3 linked regions of the Homo sapiens genome follow. The protein of the gene in region 2 interacts with the protein of the main gene of each other region in a pairwise test. Each region holds a gene or a part of one and is shown on either strand. Other genes may lie near its edges.

The links.
Region 1: the proteins of PLA2G6 (region 2) and MAT2B interact in binary tests that used the Homo sapiens proteins (3 or more experiments, as listed by UniProt).
Region 3: the proteins of PLA2G6 (region 2) and RCBTB2 interact in binary tests that used the Homo sapiens proteins (3 or more experiments, as listed by UniProt).

Annotation. Positions count from the first base shown.
Region 1 is NC_000005.10:163,501,676-163,508,641, reverse strand, and holds the start of MAT2B (methionine adenosyltransferase 2 subunit beta), read right to left. Parts: upstream 3,024-6,966; 5' UTR 2,956-3,023; coding exon 2,893-2,955; intron 1-2,892.
Region 2 is NC_000022.11:38,171,818-38,178,841, forward strand, and holds part of PLA2G6 (85/88 kDa calcium-independent phospholipase A2), read right to left. Parts: intron 1-7,024. UniProt on the Homo sapiens protein: Calcium-independent phospholipase involved in phospholipid remodeling with implications in cellular membrane homeostasis, mitochondrial integrity and signal transduction.
Region 3 is NC_000013.11:48,495,058-48,502,081, forward strand, and holds part of RCBTB2 (RCC1 and BTB domain-containing protein 2), read right to left. Parts: intron 6,812-7,024; coding exon 6,685-6,811; intron 4,704-6,684; coding exon 4,564-4,703; intron 1,265-4,563; coding exon 1,134-1,264; intron 1-1,133.

The DNA of each region.
Region 1 (6,966 bases), on a different chromosome or scaffold from region 2:
TCATCTCAAAAAAACAAACAAACAAAAAAACCAAAAAAAAGAAAACTAACGTGTTATATAAGTATACAATCATAGCTGTTTTTGTTTTTTTAATAGCAGTTTGAGGCCGGGTGCCAGGGCTCACGCCTGTAATCCCAGCACTTTGGGAGGCCAAGGTGGACCAACCACTTGAGGTCAGGGGTTCAAAACCAGCCTGGCCAACATGGTGAAACGCTGTCTCTACCAAAAATAGAAAAACTAGTCGGGCATGGTGGTGGGCGCCTATAATCTCAGCTACTTGGGAGGCTGAGGCAGGAGAATCGCTTGAACCCTGGAGGCAGAGGTTGCAGTGAGCAGAGATTGAGCCACTGCACTTCAGACGGGGTGAAAGAGCAAGAGGAAAAAAAAGAAAACAAAAAAACCCAGCAGCTTGTTAGAAGAGATATTATTTCCAAAGAGAGTAACAAGAAGTCCAGTGTTAAATGTTTTGTCTATAGTAAAAGAGAAAAAGCTGGAACCAGAACCTGAGTCTTGCTTCTCTGGTCAAGTCAAATACACTGCATTTTGTCTCAATCCTGTGAACTAATATTTGGTTTCATGAATGATTAAAGTTTTATCTGTTCTGCCACAAATTGGTGTTTAGAAGTTATTCTATCTCTATTGATCTAATTCCTCATTGGTAAATGGGGAAGGCATTTAGACAAAATGACTAAGGCTCTTTCAGCTTTAAAGTTCTATATTTCTAACATTTTCCATATTATCCCTACCACGAGGAGTCCGAATAGTTTCGTTTACTTAAATAAGGTAACTTTTCCTCTGAATATGCATTACTCCGAAATTTAAAATATGCCAAACAAATATCTCTGTTTTTGAGCTTCTATATAAGCAATACTCTGCCTTTTACACTGTTTTGTTGAGGCTTTTTGGTTCGTTCTTTAGAAAAAGAAATATCCCTCTAAAAACTACTTTGGACCTGCACTCCATAAATTATTTTAGTTGTGCACAAGGAAGAAATGTCTAAACACTTTAAGAAAGTCAGAATGAAAGAATAAAATGCTATCTAGTTCACTCAAGGCACAATAAAGAGTTGATAATACTTTGCCTGAAGTCTACTTTTTCTCAATTTTTATTATATGGGGGAAAGTAGATCTAATATCAGTTTAAGTTACTCTAAACGTATCTGCCTCTTATTGTCTAAACTCTGAAGTACGGAATTCAATCACTCCAAGGGACCAGATTTATGGACACCAAAAAAACATTTCTTGAAAAATTAAGTACATATAAATAAATATTCTTATTATCGTATCTAATCGAATGATACCAAATTGTATAGGTAATGGGAGATACATGGCTCCTTCCAAATGGTCCAACACAGTACTCTGGGACAGTGATTTCTACTTTAGCACACCTGCATTAATGTCTACTAAAAATGTTCTAGAAAAGTAAAGAATGGAATACTATTAGTATGTGGTTTTCCCAAATTTCAGTGGTAAATACCTTGTCGTTTTTGGAAACTTTAAAACTTGGCACAGTTCCATGTTTAATTTTTTAATTCCCCAGAAACAGACCCTTAAGGTAAACATTACTGGGCTTTACTTTTTAAGATTCTCTGACTACTTAGGTGGGATTGGTCTAACTTCTACTGCGACGCTACTGTGCTCCACAGACAGTATTACTAACAACAACCACTCCAGGATGCTTCTCTAACGTTAACTATGAGACAGTTCTCGTTCTCATGAGTCAGTAAGCTTTAATTCTACAGGTTTTGAGAGCAGTAAGTCTGTGCCAAGCTCTTCGTTGTTTCATTTTTAATGAAGGAAAACACGAAAAGCTATTTTCATTTTTATACTGAACTTCTTTTTGTGAAAGTAGATTAAGCTTTATATGCACACGTACACATACAAATGCATACATATAAATGTAAACGTATGTAACATGCACTCAGCACGGTCTGGAGGACCTAGGAACATAGAGGTTTAATAGACCATTTATCCTAACTTTACCCTCAAAGAACCAAAGTGATTTGAAAACCCTAAGTAAATTTGGAAGCATGAAAACTTTGCAATAACAGAAACAGCCATCTCCTATATTCTCTACTCTCTCCAAAAGACATGGTCTGGGCATTAGTAGTGTTCTTATCCCCAGGGTTGGATATGTTCTGTGGACAGATTAATGCTGGAGGCCCTTAAGTGGAATGGAGCAGGATGGGACGGGGGCGAGGGGGGCACCAGAGATGGATCTTCCAATCATCACCATAATCTTCCTTCAGGGAAACTCCGTAGTGGTTCAAAGCCCAAGACAGTCACACAAACCTGTATCTGAATTCCAGGCTCCAACCTTACGGAATGAACCTGGGCCAATGTCTCACCCTCTATGCCCGTTTTCTCGTCTACAAAATGAGGCAATAACAAGTATCTCACAGTGGAGGATTAAAGTAATGCCCGTCAAGTGCATAACATAGTGCTGAGAACTTAAGAGTTCAATAAGTTGTCATCTCCAGCACTGTTATTTGTGAGAAGTCACCTTTTCCTGTTCTTTCTCAAACCTACGAACTTGTAAGATCGAGAAATACGAACCAAAGATGAATAAACGGGGAAAACCAAAATCAAAACAAACAATTCTGAAAAACCTCTTCGTCCTCAGGAGCAGAGACAGAACTCGAAAGTAAAACCTCCACCTACTTGCTTCCTGCCGCAGTGGCTGGAAGAAAAAAACACTGACCCGTGTGCGCTGAGATAAACAAACTCGGTGGCGCCCCCCTCGGATCCGGGGCTGGGAGGGTGGCGGTGAGACCACTCCCGGCCGGAGGCTCTGACCCGGGCGGAATACGCCTGCAAAGCCGCCCGAGCCCCGGTGGCTCGTCCCCCTCGGCGCCCCCGCTCCCACCGGAGACGCCCAGGCCGACTCCCTCACCTCCACCAGCCGACAGCTCCCGGGAACAAAGTGTATAGAGAGCTCTTTCTCCCGCCCCACCATGCCCGCCGTCTTCACGCCGCAGCCTCAGCGGCCGCCACCTCCTCCAACCCAGGATCGACGCGGGCCTCAGCTCAGACGCCCTCGGCCCGCCTCCCCTAGGCCCAGAACGACCCCGCTCGCCGCTTCCGGCTTCCGCTGCCATAGCCGCGCCCGTTGATTGGCCACGCTCCGCCGACGCCCCAGAAAGAGGGCGGGTACGCGCGGTCTGCCCCCAGCCCACGCGCCGATGCTTAAAGCGACACACAAAAGAAAGGCCCTGACCTTAGGCAGTGAATTCAGGTTTTGTTTCGGAGATTTTATTTGAGTGCTTTTTATTCTACTTTTTTTCCTTTTTTTCTTGACTCGGGAAAAGATTGAAGTGGATCGCCTTGAGTTTCAAGTTTGCAGACTGCGCAGTGCATGAGGATCGACTGAGCAATATAAAAAGTGGAATAAAAAGCATTTTAAAGTCATGGGGGCGGGGGCGGAGGTGGGTAGAGCATAATGGACACATCTCTAGAGCTCTAGGTGGGGGTTTTGAAAGATTTAGAAAAAGACAAGGAATAAAAATAAAAGGGTTGGCGTCTGAGCCATTTGTCTTCCTGGGATGCTTAAAAAAAGAAAAAACCTGTGTGTGAGATATCAAAAATGTAAAACTATTTTTAACTAATTAAAAATAAAAAGTTGTAGGGGGAAGGAAGATGAACTACTTAGGTACCTCTTCAAAACGCAGATCCTTGGACTTTACCCATAATTACAGAACAAGAAACGAGCCCGGGGTCCGACTTCTTAATGGGTTTAACCAGAATCAAGCCCACTCTTTAAGAAACACCGCCTCGGGGATTGCAGGATTGGGCCACACGAGCCCAGCCTTGGTGAGCACCGAGAATTTAAGCAGCAGCGTGTAAGGCTGGGCGTTCTACCACCTTTTAAAAGTTAAGCAGCCCTAAGTGCTGATGCCGACTTATTTCCCTTCCAGTTAAAAACCGCAAAAAATCCTCAGCCAGGCTGGACGCCTGTGAAATTGATGCAGAAAGTAAACCCTGGCACAGGCCGTGTAGGATTTGCCAACTTTGCACCGAACAGTCCAAGGGTTCTTGTGTGCCCAGGATAGCAAGCTCTAAACGTCGTCCACAAACGTGACCACTGTCTGGATTTTCCTAGGGCCTTTCCCCGACTCCTAAACCTTTTTGGTTTATTTTCAAACTAAAGACTAAGCAGCCTTTTAAAGAAGTTTTCCACGTCAGAACACCATGACTTTCCTTCCTCCTCAACCCCCAACAAAAACTCATTTCCTTATTCGTGTAAACATAAAGTTTCTCTAGAACAGTAATCGAAGACAGCCTGAGGTTTCTTATGTTCCGATTTTTTTTTTTTTTAAACACAGGCTATTACTGTTCATTAGTTTGGCTTTATTTAGGGAATCCTTGAGGACTGCCCCAGCGCTAAACAAGCATAATCAGGGGACAACAAAGAAGAGGGCGGGAAGAGGGCCGGGGGAGCAGCCAAGATCATCTTACTACTTTTTCTCTTAACTGGGAATTCGGTTTAAAGTTTCTAGTCGCAACACGTGATGTAATCTTACCTTTCTATGGGAGAAAAGAAAATTAATTCTTCATTCTTCAACGTGAAGCAGGTTTAAGGGCAAGCATATGCAATTAGCATTCTGATTCTCAGAGCAGCCTAGTCTTGAGGAACAGAAAGAATTTAACTTGGCTGCTTTTGAAAATCTGACTTGATACTTTCCCCGTAAAAGTTGGGTACAGTTCTAGGGGCATATGTTTGGATATGGTTTTTAATCATTTTCTTTAATGATGGTAGGGTCTATGCGAATCAAACGCCATTCTTAACATAGACAATATACAACTTCGTGTGGTGGCTAAGTCTATACATTTAAAGAGAGCAGCCTGAAACTAAAAGTTATGTTAGCAGATTCAATTCATACAAAGACAAAGAACATCTGGAAAGGAACACACTACAGATAAAATCCTTATTTATGTAGAAACTTTATATACATAATTGCATTTAAAATGGTAAATGAAAGTGCAATTCTGTATTGTCAGCTAGTGAGACTTAGCTGAGCCCTTCATAACCTGGTTCTCCGGGTCAGTAACTAAAGTTGGCTTATTCTTCCATGTCCCGAGGTTATGTTTTAAGGAAATGAATGACACCCGTTTCTATTTTCTTTACACAACAATTCTGGTTTTAGCAGGCGTTCACTGGAATGCTTTTAAAGCATCTCTTACTCTAGAATGCTTCATTTCTTGAATTGCTAGTTCTTACCTGCTCCATGTCCTCTGGCATTTCAGGCATGACTCCAGAATTATTTCAGGAGAGCAGATACGGGATGGGTCTTAGCCTCTGCCTTCTCTTGCTGGGTCTTTGTTCGCTTCTGCCTGCAGAGAGCGCAGGCACGCCAAAACGTGAGGAGCAGCTTCACTTGACCTTTTAAATTAGCATTTTGATTCCAATCCCGGAATCTCGTGCAGTTCTCCACATGGCAGTAAGCTGGTAGCTGATTCCCCGTAGTAGTCTCGAAAATACCCAATGAGAAGTTTCATGTTTAATTGCCAGTCAAGCCTGGGTCTATTTGCAAAACTATTTGGTAGAACTAACTACTTAACAAAAACAAAAACAAAAACCCAACAACTTCCTGTCAAGATTCCTTGTAGTTTTCTTTTGCAAAAGAAGAGTGAGCCACACTTTTGGAAAGCACACAGATCATGCAGTTGATTCCTGTTCTAAAAGGCACAGTTTTCTATCATTTTATTTAGTTACACCTTATTGCAACAGATTATGTTTAGTAAAATTCTCCAGTGCTTTCCCTTCCCAGTGCTTTTAATTATTTCAAAGGAGAGTAAAAGGCAGTGGTGGTAACAGCACGCAAGAAGTAAAATGCAACGGGTCATTTCCATTAATACTATGCTGCCCTCTGAGAAAATGGTAGATGGAGTGAGCGGCCTTAAGTTTCACAAAGCATTAAGGACTTCTAGATAAGTGATTTCCAAACCTGCCTGCACCACAGAACCTAAGAAACGAAATCATTCTCTGGGAGCGAAGCCCAGTAATCTGTTTTCGAAGACTTTCAAGGGTCATGAACGTGCTCAGTGAGCTTTGCACCGCTATTCTGAATTATGGCTCTGTACCAATTTAAGAACATCAAAAATTGCCATTCAAATTGAACTAAAAAAATCATCTGACTTTTAATGTTACATTCATTTAGAGCACACAGCGCATGGTAAACTCTAAGAGGCATTCAGAGAAATCTATTAATATAAATTATGAGGAATTGTTGTGTGTGTGTTTGCATTTGTGAACAAATGTGAACCTGAAAAAGCCAGTCCTTCAAGATGGATCCCAAGTGGCTAACTGGGCATAATTTATTTATTTTTATTATTTCAAGACAGGGTCTCCCTCTGTCACCCACGTTGGAGAGCAGTGGTGCCATCACAGCTCACTGCAGCCTCGAACTCCTGGGCCCCACGTAATTCTACAGCCTCAGCCTCCCAAGCAGCTCCACAGATAAGGAGTGAATATTCGCCTTGGCCATTCCCGGATTCCTTAGCTCCAAGCACACATTCTTCTTAGACCACAGGGTATTCTCAGGGTATGCTTAAAGTTATTGCTGTCAGGTGCATCTGCCATACAACGCTATTTATTTATTATTATTATTATTATTTTTTTTTTTTTTTCTTTTTTGAGACGGAGTCTCGCTCTGTTGCCCAGGCCGGACTGCGGACTGCAGTGGCGCAATCTCGGCTCACTGCAAGCTCCGCTTCCCGGGTTCACGCCATTCTCCTGCCTCAGCTTCCCGAGTAGCTGGGACTACAGGCGCCCGCCGCCGCGCCCGGCTAATTTTTTGTATTTTTAGTAGAGACGGGGTTTCACCTTGTTAGCCAGGATGGTCTCGATCTCCTGACCTCATGATCCACCCGCCTCGGCCTCCCAAAGTGCTGGGATTACAGGCGTGAGCCACCGCGCCCGGCCCTTATTTATTATTTTTAAGACGGACTCTCGCTCTGCTGCCCAGGC
Region 2 (7,024 bases):
TCTCAGAAAAAAAAAAAAAAAAATTATAAAGACAGGGTCTTACCACGTTGCTCAGGCTGGTCTCGAACGCCCGGGTTCAAGCGATCTGCCTGCCTCAGCCTCTCAAAGTGCTGGGATTACAGGTGTGAGTCACCGTGTCTGGCCTAAAATGTTCTTGATACACCATCACCAGATGCCAGGTTCTCTCTCCTTGCTCTGGGCTCTCCCTCACTTTAAACACATCTGTACTATCACAGCCCAGCATGTTACAACTGCCCCTCCTGCCAGACGGTAAGCTTCGTCATCCTCCTACCAAACACTCCTGTGCATCTTGCTGGCACCATCCTGAAAGCTTTACGTACATTAATCATTCTGTCTGACAACCACTCTATGAACTGGTTACTATTATTATCCTCATTTTACATATGAGAACACCAAAGAACAGAGGGGTAAAGTCACGGGCCCAGGGTCACCCAGCTAGTGGGTGGAGCAGTGAAAGCTGGCACCCAGATGGGCTGGCCCAGAGTCTGAGTTTCTCAAAGGCAGCTGCTCGTCTTTTCATCTCCGTCCACAAGCTTGGCTCACAGAAAGTTTGTCAAAACAAAAATTTAACTGAGTAAATATTATGCATAGAAAAAACAAAGCCTGATAGAAAACAAACCAAGATAGACTGACAGAAAACATGCCATTGAGTAGATGAGGGTGCTGGGTTTATGGGCTTTTGTTTTTTCCTTTTCCCTATTTTCCAGATGCTATGTAAAGCGATTATAGTTTTCAAAGGAAGTAGCAGTATAGGCTGAGCCTCTGGGGGCTGCAGCCGGGAAGATGGGGACCTGTGGGACTCAGGCCTGGCCTGGAAGAGCGCAGAGAGGCTACCCCGAGGACGGGCCCACAGGGACGCGGAGGGGTGCGCCCAGGAAGGGCAGAGAGTCAAGAGCATCCAGCACCCATGAGCCTCAGATTGAGGGAGAAAGTCACCAGGGGTGCAGTGAAATCAAAGAAAGATTCCACACACCCCTTCGTCAATGGCCCAGCCTGTGTACCCCCCACCAGAGCCTGGGGCTAGGGGATGCCCCCCACACACCCACGACAGCATGGCCACAGAAACGACAGGCTTGGCTGGCATCCAGCCTTCAGGGTAGGCAGGAGGACGAGATGACGCAATGGAGGGAAGGTGTCTGGGACACAGGCCGACTGTGGGCACACAAACAGTGGCCATTGTTATCACTAGGTGGAAGAAAGGAAATGACAGCCACGGGGCCACATCCTGGAACACTCACGGCATTGCCAACCAGGAAGGCGGGCCAGCAGGGAGAAAGTGCTCACACGTGCTTCCTTCTGTCCCTGCCACCTTGGACCCTGGAGCCTAGGCTCTTCCCAGCACAGCTGCAAGAGGGGGATGGTGGATGAGGGCCCCCCGCATCATGCCTCACTTCATCTCTCCCCCTGGCTTCTCACAGCGTCCTACCCTTGACCTTCCCGTGGGGTAGACAATCACTTTTCCCCACTGATGACCGGCCCCTCCTCCTCCTTACCTGGGCTTCTCCCTGCACCCCCAGGATGCCCAGGTCACCTGACACAGACCGCACCTCGGCTGTGTCAAGCAGCTCTCTCAAACACCACAAGCAGAAAGACAAAGACCCAAGACCTTTGGTGGTGGGGGTTGACAGTGACAATTCTGCCTGTCCAAGCCAGGCAATTTCCAGGTACCAATTTTGGTGCCCCTGCTGAGGGAAGCCAGATATTTCTGGCCGTTTTCCTTATCTCTGCTCACCCATCCTCTGTCAAAACCAAGCTTGCCTGCTGGGTTCATTGAGGGAAGACTGACAGAGAGTGTGCTGGTGTGAGGGTCCCCTGGAGGAGCTGAAGGACGGGAGGAACAAGTATTATTATCCCATCTTCCCATCTCAGAGATCAAGAAACTGAGGCCCAGAGAGGCCCTGAATTGTACATGTTCAAAGGGCAAATTAAGGCCGGGCACAGTGGCTCGTGCCTGTAATTCCAGCATTTTGGGAGGCTGAGGCAGACGGATTGCTTGAGCCCAGGAATTTGAGACCAGCCTGGGGAACATGGCAAAACCCTGTCTCTACAAAATATAAAATAAAATTAGCTGGGCATGGTGGTGTGCGCCTGTGGTCCCAGCTACTCGGGAGGCTAAGGCAAGAGGATTGCTTGATCCTCTTGAGGTCGAGACTGCAGTGAGCCAAGATTGCACTACTGCACTCCAGCCTGGGAGACAGAGCAAGACCCTGCCTCAAAAACAAAACAAAACAAAGGGCAAATTAAAGTTGATGTCCACCAAAAAACAAAAACAAACGGGCTGGGCGCAGTGGCTCACGCCTGTAATCCCAGCACTTTGGGAGGTTAAGGCGGGCGGATCACGAAATCAGGAGATTGAGACCATCCTGGCTAACATGGTGAAACCCCGTCTCTACTAAAAATACAAAAAAAATTAGCTGGGCGTGGTGGCGGGTGCCTGTAGTCCCAGCTATTCGGGAGGCTGAGGCAGGAGAATGGCGTGAACCCGGGAGGCGGAGCTTGCAGTGAGCCGAGATCATGTCACTGCACTCCAGCCTGGGCGAGAGCGAGACTCTGTCTCAAAAAAAAAGAAAGAAAGAAAAACAAACGAAGAAACAAAAAACCTCGAGTGGGAACAGAGGGAGATTGGAGCCAATGGTAGCATCTCTGATGAGTTCCCTGGAAGTGACTACCTGGGTTCATAAAACAGTCAACAGAGAGACCCAAGACCAGTCCCTGTCTCGCCAAGTGCACGGTCCCCTGAGGGAAGGACCCCTAAAGGGGATGACTTTTTAGCTGAACTTTCCAGGAAGAACAGGAGTTTGCCAGCGGGGGAAATGGCGAGAGGCCTTCACAGCAGATGAAGCAGATCAGAACACGGAGGAAGGCAGAGATCAGGGGCTTGCTCAGCCCACCCATGAACGGTGAGCATTTTCACTGGGACTGGACGGCTCGAGAGGGGAAGGTGCTGAGAGGAGGGGCCGTGGTTAGTGCTGTGATCAACGTGAACACAGGTCACCTGGAGCCACTTGTCCAGGGCTGCTATGTCAGTCACGCCCCTCGCCATGCCCAGGGAAGCTCCTCTCATGACGAGGAGCCAAGCCCCGGAAGAAGTGCAGTAGAGGACAAGGGACCAAGAGGGTGGCTCAGAGCGGGTGGTGAGGGAGAACTCAGTCCCAAAAATCTGGTTCCTCCTCAGCTACGAATTCCCTGAAGGACCCTGGGCAGGTCTCAGGCACGGGAGGAGCGGTCCCTGCCCTCTGATTGCTGCTACCTGCCGCAGCTGCCAGGCCCAGGCAGTCCCCTCTCCTCCCCTTTGGAAGGTCTGTGTGAAAACTGCTTTTCTGTAGTGAAAGGGGCCTGCACTTGCGTCCTCCCTGGAATGCGCTCTCCAGTTCCTGCTGGAGCCCCTGCTCATCCTTCAAGGCCCAGCTGCCCCCTCTGAATGCTCAGAGCACCAGAGTGCCCTTCCAGCCTGCACGGTTCCCAACCCAGCCTGACACCCCTCCATGCCCACTGTACGATGCAAATCCAGCTGCAGGTCTCCCTGCTGACCCTGGCCAGTGGCGCCCCATGACCTCCCAGGGAAAGCCCAGACTCCAGCATCCATGAGAGCTGGCCCAACTCACCCCTCCAACTCATCCCTCACCTCTACTCCAGCCACGCCGCACCATCGATCTTCCCAGAACACGTCAAACTCGTGTCTCAGTGCACTTGGGGATACCACACATACGCTCCATCAGCGTAGCCCATCCTCCCCACTTTCTTAACCTGAATGTGTGCTCCACAAAGGACAAATGAACAAATCTCTTCTTATCCATGAAGATACAGCTCAGGTGCCATCTCCTCTGAAAATTCATACCCGCACCTCCGCCCTGCAGCCTGGTGTGCCTTCCTCTTCTCCCCAGCACCCCACACCACCCAGGGCCCAGCCCACAGGAACACACACCATGTGAGAATGGGGGTGCATCTGTTGGCTTGGGCTGCTCACCCAACCCGCTTTGATTTGTTTCCCTAAGCACCTGGCATGATGTTCCTGACTCACAGTGGGTGTTTAATAAGTTTGGTGAATGAATGAATGAGAATGAATGAATGAACCACCTATAAGCCCATGGGGCCAGCACCTCTGAAGCCCCCAGACACACTTTATTCCCTTGAAGGTGATAACAGGGACCACACACTGTTCCCACCCACTCTGAGCTGCCATGCTCCTCTCCACAACGGATAGGGAAATACCATGCTCAAATCCCACCAGTAGCTAACGGCCCACAAGGGGTTCGCTCCTCCACCGGGAGAACCTGTATCTAGCACCTGCACTCCTTCAGGAGCGGCCCTAAGTGATCGGACTGATCCATCCCCAGGCTTCGGTCTGGAAAGTTCAGCTTTATATATAGTCAGGGCACTTAGGCTGAGCTCACTCCTAGTCCAAGCAGGAAAGACTCCAAGCCTTCTGCTTCCTTCTTGACTAAGCCGAGAGCAGAGGAGCCGGACAGCTGCCCGAGAGGTGCGTGACAGGAACCCACAGGCAGCAGGCCAGGAAGCAGACCTCACAGGCTTGGCCACGTGGGGGATTCCAGGAGCACACACAGAACTGCCCGAGGTGGAAATCAGGCCTCACGAGCCCCAGCTGCTGACGACAGGATGTCCCATGATTGGAACAACTGTTGGATGGTCCTGGCAGCAGAACCTGGCAGCAGTGACACCCTCCTGAGCACCCTCCTCCCACCCAGTCAAGACAGAGCAGGCTGGAAACTCAGGGTCCACTCAGAGTGCCAAGCTGCCCCAACTTCCTTCCTGTAGCTCCGTCTGTGCCACACAGCACGGGAGCATGCCACCACACACCGGCCTCCGTCCTCTCACAAGGCCACCATGCCTCACGGTTGGCAAAGGGTTTCACACTTGTGATCCACCTCCAAGCTCACAAAGAAACAGGGAAGGCGCAGCCGGGCGCGGTGGCTCACACCTGTAATCCCAGCACTTTGGGAGGGTGAGATGGGCAGATCACCTGAGGTCAGAAGTTCAAGACCAGCCTGGCCAACGTGTGAGAAAAAAACCCCATCTCTACTAAAACTACAAAAAAAATTAGCCTGGCGTGATGGTGGGTGCCTATAATCACAGCTACTTGGGAGGCTGAAGCAGGAGAATCTTTGAACCCGAGAGGCAGAGGCTGCAGTGAGCCGAGATCATGCCACTGCACTAAAGCTTGGATGACAAAGTGAGACTGTCTCAAAAAAAAAAAAAAAGAAACAAGGAAGGTGCAATCATTCTCCCTGTTTGGCATGTGGAGAAATCAAGGCCCCAAGAGAGGAAATGGGGTGGCAGGTTGTGGTGGGGGATTGCCTGCCTATGTCCTCTGACTCTTGAACAGCACTAGGCAAAGGGCTGGCCACACAGCAGGTGCTCAATCTGTGGGTGAGAAAACACTGAATGAACACAGGGGTCATCTGAGCCTCTGAACCTCCAAGGCAGCCTCCCGGCAAAATGTCCCCGCAAATGTTCCCTCTGACCCCAGCTCATTCCAACCTCTTTCCTAAGTTAGTGGGAAAGGGCTTGATCCCATCCCCTCACACCCCATCAGCACCCACTGCTGCCCAGCACCCACAGGGCGCCAGACGCTTCACCACAGTTTCGGGTAAATTGCCACTTTTTTTTTTTTTTTTTTTTTGAGACAGAGTTTCACTCTTGTTGCCCAAGCTGGAGTGCAATGGCGTGATCTTGGCTCACTGCAACCTCTGCCTCCCGGGTTCAAGCGATTCTCCTGCCTCAGTCTCCAGACTAGCTGGGATTACAGGCGCGCACCACCACACTCGGCTAATTTTTTGTATTTTTAGTAGAAACGGGGTTTCACCATGTTAACCAGGCTGGTCTTGAACTCCTGACCTCCGGTGATCCGCCCACCTCCACCTCCCAAAGTGCTGGGGTTACAGGCATGAGCCACTGCGCCCGGCCGAATTGCCACATTTAACCCTCCAAACACCTGTAAGAAAAGGTCCAGGTCTCTCCACATTACACAGGAAACTGGGGCACAGGTTACACAGTTTGCCAGGATCTGAACCCAATTAGGTGGAATCCAGAGCATCAGGCTCTTAATCCTCAAACTGCCTTCAGGAGAAAGCTGAAAGAAGGTGGCTGAGCGAGGCTTGCTCAACAGGCTCTTAGATTCCAAAAGCCAAGGCCCTCGTCTCAAAATGCACTGCTGCTCACGTGAGCCAGAGCAAAACGTCCTTTCACAAAAGGAAAAAGCATCTCTTTCATTCACTCCGCTTGGCTGGACCACAGCTGGAAGCAAACTGCCCCGAAACTGTCACTGGAGCTCCCAAGCACATGAGACAGGGGTGACTTTAAGAGATCTTTGGGCTGGTGGCACGGTACAGTGTGGCCCATGTTATGACTCACTCCACAAATATTTACTGAGATGGATTGTGGCAGGCATTGTTCTAACCGCTGAGGATACAATCGTAAACAAAACAGACTGGTCAGGCACGGCAGTTCACTCCTGTAATCCCAGCACTTTAGGAGGCCAAGGAAGGAGGATCACTTAAGCTCAGGACTTTGAGACCAGCCTGGGTAATATAGTGAGACCTCACCTCTACAAAAACTTAACAATTACCCAGGCATGGTATCTCTCATGCCTGTAAGTCCCAGCTACTAAGGTGGCTGAGGTGGGGGGATTGCTTAAGTCTAGCAGGTCGAGGCTGCAGTGAGCTGTGATTGTGCCACTGCAATCCAGCCTGAGCGACAGTGAGACCCTGTCTTAAAACAAAACAAGGCCGGGCGCGGTGGCTCACACCAGTAATCCCAGAACTTTGGGAGGCCGAGGCGGGTGGATCACTTGAGGTCAAGAGTTCAAGACCGGCCTGGCCAACATAGTGAAACCCCATCTCTACCAAAAAATACAAAAATTAGCTGGGTGTGGTGGCGTGCACCTGTAATTCCAGCTTCCTGGGAGACTGAGGTGGGAGAATCACTCAAACCCAGGAGGCGGAGGCTGCAGTGAGCTGAGATCGCACCACTGCGCTCCAGCCTG
Region 3 (7,024 bases), on a different chromosome or scaffold from region 2:
AAAAAAGTTATAACCTTTCATCTACTAAAATGTCTCTGTTTTCTTTGACCAAAGGAGAGGATATCCTTATACCAAAAGGAAACTGACTCGAAGATGTTACAGCCTGTTTCCTAAAGATTTGGTTCTAAGATTGGTTTTCTTTCCTTTCTTTATTATCATAACAATACATGGTCACTGTAAAAGTTAAAAAAAAATAAGCAAAGAGAAGAAAATAAAAATCACCCACAATCCCACCATTCAATGATAACCACTAAGCATAGTTTTCAGTCTTTTTTTCTATGTAGATAATGAATTTTAGTTTTTTATTCAGCTATTTATACTTTTTCAAAAAATAAAAATAGGATAAGTTTTTCACTTAGTGATATATCTTGAATAGCTGCATAATTTCTTGATATTAACATTTTATAAACAAGCCTCCACTATTCACACTAACCTTTTTCTGATTTTTCAAAATTATAAACTGCTGAAGTAAACACCTTTGAAGCTAAGTCTTTGTGCAAATCCATGATTAATTCCTCAAGATAAATACTTGTGAGTGAATTCCTTGAAGAATTATGTCTTTAATTTAAGGTGCTTAATACATATTATACCAAATTGTTCTCCATACCAATTTGTACTCTCATCAGCAGTTTAGGAGAACACCATTATTCTGATCCTATACATTATCTCTAAAAATATATTCCTGCTTTGACAGGTGAAAAGTTATACCTTGTTTTCATTTATGTTTTTTGTCTATTTATAGAGCCATTTGTTCTTTGGTCCATTTCTTTCAACCAAACTGTTCCTATTGTCTTTTTGTTTTTCACTCTGGTAAACAGACTTCATTATATGTTGCAAGTATTTTTCCCAGTGTCTCATTACTTTGTAAGTTTCTCTATGGTATTTTTAAGTGGATAAAAGTTTCTTATCTTTTTAAATCAGAGCTATAAATCCTTTATGGCTTCTGCCTTTGATGTCCATCCCAACATTATATAAATACTTGCTTATACGTTGTCTAGTACTCTTGTTACTTCATTTTTTAAAAAATATTAAATATTTCCTCTACCCAGACTTTCTTTTAGTTTAAGGTACGAGGCAGACACCTGGGTTCCATTTCTCCAGGAGGCCGGCAGCTGGAAGCAAGCTTTCCTTACCTGTGCATCATACTTCACCGCAGCCGAGAGCAGAGCGATGGCATTCTCCTCGCAGATGCCTTGCTTGATAGTTTGTTGGCAGAGCTTTTTCAAACGATTTTCTCTATAAAATGTAGCCAAGTCTAGCAGTCCTGGCGGAAAGAGGTGTTTATTAGGGGGAGTGATTTCAAGCATCCTGATTTACAGTTGCTCACTCAGCCACTCAGAGATGATTTTGACACTATTTTAGATATAATCCTCAGTGAAGCACTGCATAGACTGATGCTGACTGACACTTACACTTCAGTGTGGGGCTCTACCCAGGATGGCAGCCAAGCTGAGCAAACATGATACACAAATCATTAGCTGTTGAAAAACAGGAGCACAGGGAAAATAGCTTTAATATTTTTTTCCTAGGAAAAAAGCATGTGCGCCTTGAATGACCCCTTCCCCTGCAATCTCAATGTCAGCTTCTCCTGGGCCACTCCCAGGAGCACACACACATGCTGTAAGAGTGCCCGCCGTGAAAAGAAAGAAAAGAAAAGAAGAAAAGAAAACAAAAGAGAAGAAAAGAAGAGAGGACAGGAGAGGGAGGGGAGGGGAAGGGAGGGGAGAAGAGAAGAGGGGAGGGGAGAGGAGGGGAGGGGAGAGGAGGGGAGGGGAGAGGAGGAGAGGGGAGAGGAGGGGAGGGGAGACCCTTTCATGGACACGTGTCTTCCTCCTGTTACCCTATCCCACTGCTCCTCTCTACAGCAAAACTCCTAGACAGAGCTATCTGTATCTGCTGTCTCCATTTTCCCACCTCCCATTCTGACCTCAAGCCATTACAAGCAGAACCCCATCCCCACCACTACTGCAGTCACACCCTTGGTGGTCACACCTGTGGCAGTCACAGTGGCTTTGAGGGTGCAATATTCTCTGGTTTCCTCTTACTCGACATTTACACAGAATTTGATATGGTTGATAATGCTCTCCTTAGGACACTTTGTCACTTGCTTGCATTTTTCTTCTCTTTAATTAGTTGCTCCTCAGTTCTCTAGGCTGGATCATTTTTCCTGACTTCCAAATGTTTGAGTGCCCCAGGGTTAAATCCTCAGACACTTTCCTCACTTACTTCCCAAAACCCCAGCCCCAGGGTTTTAAATATCATCTATATATGCAGGTGAGTCCTGTTATATTACCTGTCACCTATTTTCAAGTAATTCAACGTAGACTGGGTGAGGTGACATATGTAAATTAATTTTAATCTACCCCAAGGAATGATAGGAAGTACTCTAATTGAAGCAGTCAATCAGCATCTGAAAGATCCTATTTGTTTTTCTGAATCTTCATTACAGGATTTGTAATTAGCATAAAGAATGTCAGAATTAGTTTGTCATTGCTGAAATGAGTGGTAGCCAGGATCAAAAGGCTAGCTGAATCCGGCTACTAGAACACTGTCATGTCCACCTCAAGCTAACTTTTCATGCAAGGTACTTAATAGAGTGTACGAAGTATAAAGAGCAGGGATTTCATCAATTTTACCATATTAATTGTTTTTGTGTCTATCTGCTAATAAATCTTATACATGTGGTAGACTTTGGTTGGAAACTTGCTTTTTTAATAACAAATATTATCAAAGTTATAGAGGAAAGACAGATAGCCCACTGGAGGACACTGAAATCTTGAGTTGTGAATGGCTTCATTGTTTTTGGCCCCAAGCTTCAGACACACATGCAAGCTGCACTGCCCTAAGAGAGGACTCTGCCCCAAGCCCCAGCTCTGCGCCTCCTCCACGCACACCTTCAGCACAGGGTGGCTAAGGAGCCACATGCCCACTTCTAGACCACACTTTGGGTACCTGGGAACCTGGGACTGCCTGCATAATTGGCCTTGAGGCCACATGTGTGGGTATTTCCTCCCTTAGACCCCACCACCAATGTGCAGACCCCCTGGCCCAAAAGGGTAACCTGGGTTGGGGGTGGATAGAGCTTGGAATGCAAGCTAGGGTGCCCACACACCCTTCTGCTGGAGGAGGGGTCTGTCCTGCCTGTGCCATTGGGTTCTGGCACAAGAAGTCCTGCAACTCTAAATGTCAACTAAAATTGAAACCTGTCCTTTCAGTTCTTAATGAAATTACATTTTTCAAGGTGGGAGGATTGGACATATTTTTATCTGAAGTTCACTAGCTTGACATATAACTTTAAGTTTTTAGACATATGGAACATAGGTCTCCATTTGGAGTCTTGGCTACAGCCCCACAAATGTTAGTGGTGGGCCGATAAAAAACTGCCACTCGCGGCCGGGCGCAGTGGCTCACGCCTGTAATCCCAGCACTTTGGGAGGCCAAGATGGGCGGATCACCTGAGGTCGGGAGTTCAAGACCAGCCTGACCAACACGGAGAAACCTCGTTTCTACTAAAAATACAAAATTAGCCAGGCGTGGTGGTGCATGCCTGTAATCCCAGCTACTCGAGAGGCTGAGGCAGGAGAATCGCTTGAAACCGGGAGGCGGAGGTTGTGGTGAGCGGAGATCGTGCCATTGCACTCCAGCCTGGGCAACAAGAGTGAAACTCTGTCTCAAAAAAAAAAAAATTATCACTTGGGTATCTAATGGGAAGCTCAAACTCCTTTGACTTTCAAAGTCCAGAGCAAGCCTGTTGTTCTCTATCTTCCTCACCTCAGTGCCATTAAGGCAGCTACCCAGGCCAAGTACCTCAGTGCAGCCATCCTTCTCTCTCAACTCACACCTCTCATCCCATCTATCAACAAATCCCATCAGCAACCTCTTTAAAATATATCTAGAATCTGATCTCTTTTCAATACTTCCACTGCTATACAACCCCAACCCAGGAGACCATCATCTCACACCTGAACCAATATAATAACTGATGTTTTAAACACAGATCACATCTCTCCTGTGGCAGAAGCTGCTAGTTGCCTCTCTCCCGACCCCCACCCCAACACACACACACACACACACACACACACACACTCTCTCTCTCTCTCTCTCTCTCTCTCACACACACACACACATCCATTCTTCCTTTCTACTGAAACCACAGAATTTTTAGCCAAGCTACGGCCCTCTGGAAATGCCCATTTTCCCAGCCTCCTAAGCCACTGGGCACAGACTTGACTGACTCAGGCCCACAGTCTGAAATAAGTGGAATTCCTGGGCCCTGCTGGTGGAGACACGGGGATCTGCTGCATGGCCCTCAGTCTCTGTCCCTTCCTCCATGCTGCTGCCTGCAATGCTCCACGGTGGTGATGATTTGATTCTTCTCTCTCTTATCTGTCCAGTCAACCTTTGTAATAAAGTAGTAACAAGGGAAACGTGTTTGGATTCAACACACACAAAAAGAAATACTTCTGTAATTACCCTCACAGTGACTTTCTTTTAGGTTCTATAGAAACCACCTTGTCAGTTCCTCAACATTTTGCCAAGTTTTTGGAAGTCTTTGGCAATTACCTACTGCCTCCTCAGGAGAAAGGCTGATGCTGTCTGTGTATAGGTATTCCAGGAAGGCCCGGTAAACAGGATATGAAAATTCACTCATTTCTACAATATCATCCTCGTTATCTTCCAATGACGAACGAAAATGCTCACATCTGAAGGAAAAAAGCAGTATGTCAGGTCCTAGCTTCCCAGCCAGGACAGATGGCCTCTGTGAGGACCACGTTCTTCTCTCGAAGGTGCACGCTGGCACGTCCCTGCTGTGGCTCCTCACTTTCTTTGCTGGCCAGGGTTTTCAAACAATCATCTATTCAGCAAGGCTGTATATACAAACCTGCTGCCAGGGGTGGCCTGGGAAGCAGCCCCAATGGCCGTGCTAATGGGGACAGAGCTGGGCTCCCTGGCATCTCTCTCACACCACAACCACTGTCAGCATTTAGAGAAATCAGTGGGTTTATTTTTATAAAATCTAAGTAATTCTGTTTCCTCACTCCATTACGGGTTGAATGATGTCCTCTAAAAATTCCTGTGTTGAAGTCCTAATGGCCAATACCTCAAAATGTGACCTTACTAGGAAAGAGAGCCTTTAAAGAGGTAATCAAGTTATAAGAAGGTCACTAGGGTGGGCCCTAATCCAATATGACTGGCATCTTTATAAAAAGGGGAAATTTGGACAGGGCGCGGTGGCTCACGCCTGTAATCCCAGCACTTTGGAAGGCCGAGGCGGGTGGATCACGAGGTCAGGAGTTTGAGACCAGCCTGGCCAATATGGTGAAACCCCATCTCTACTAAAAATACAAAAATTAGCCAGGCATGGTGGTGTGCGCCTGTAATCCCAGCTACTCAGGAGGCTGAGGCAGGAGAATCACTTGAACCTGGGAGGAGGAGGTTGCAGTGAGCCGAGATCAGGCCACTGCACTCCAGCCTGGGCAATAGAGAAAGACTCTGCCATCTAAAAAAAATAAGGTGGGGGGAAATTTGGACACAGACATGCACAAAGGGAGAATGCCACATGCTGACTGGAGTTAAGCAGCCACATGCCAAGGAAGGCCAAAGACTGTCTGCAAATCCCCAGCAGCTAGGAAAGAGGCAGGAACAGATTCTCACTCACAGCCTCACAAGAAACCCATCCAGGTGACACTTTTGATCTGGGATTTCCAGCCTCCAGAACTTTATGTTGCTTAAGCCACCCGGGCCATAGTACTGTGTTACAGCAAACAAATCCACCCCCCTTCTTTCATGCAGGTTGATGTGATATAGAGAGAGTGAGCAAACGCTGCACAGCTTGATCTTACTAAAGAGGAACTTGAGACTAAAATGCTGTGTTGAGTGTGTGACTCACTGCAGTAGGATTTAAATATCTGTTACACAACAACATAATGAATTTCAAAATCATCATGTAAAAGAAAGAAGCCAAGCACAAATGAATGCATCCTGTATCATCCCATCTAAATACACTCTAGAAAATGCTAACTCAGCTACAGTGACAGAAGGAGCTGCGGTCACCCAGGGCTAGGACATGAGGGGTCTTTGAAGGGTGATGGGAATGTTCTCTGTCTGGATGTGGGGCAGTGGTTTCACAGGCGTAGACATGTGTCAGCACTCATCAAACTGCACATTTGAAATGCACACAGCTCATTGCTCAAAAACATTCACAAATGTGATTTTTTAAAATCTCTGTGCTAGCCTCACTATAGACCTTTTTGGTCTGGAAAGGCCTTGATCTTCTCTTTCTTAAACCATCTAAAAGTACGCCACAAGTGATTATAAGAAGGTGATTATTAAGAGCTGAGCTTGATTCCCAGGCAGAAACGGTAACTGATGGACGTCCAAGTATCAATACAGTGTTCAGAGCACAGGACACACTTGGAGCGTGCGCTGGCTGCTCCCTGCTGCCAAGGTGACCACGCCACTTTTCAAGCCTAAGGAACGCCTATGGTACTGGTTCCCGGAACCACACAACCTGTGTTATTTCTTGTTTCATGTATATTTCTCCCCGCTCCACTGTATGCTTGTAAGAGCAAAAACAGCCTTACAATTTTTCTTGATTACTGAGGTGCCTAATATAGTTGGACACTTAGAATATAATTGTTGAACGAATTACTTTTCTCAATTCTCAAATAAATGATTCCTTACCGAATCTTGAGAAGGACTTTATGTGCATAAATGTACTTTCCATCAACTAGAAACTTCAGGTCTGCAGTGTCCGGGTTGTCAAATTCCCTCTTCAGTGACTCAGCCACTGTGAGGTGGTCATCAGGTTCTAGGAGAATAATGCAAATGCTTCCAGAGTTAGCTACAGACATAATGAACACACAGGACAGGATATGGCACTACTCTACTGGTACTCATGAAAGTACCAATTCCTCAAAATAACTGAGCAACTGAGCAATGGATTTTTTCCCCTGAAGACAGATTTGCATCTCTGTAATCATTAAGAATAAGAATCTCACAAATATCTGCTTATAAATCTGGC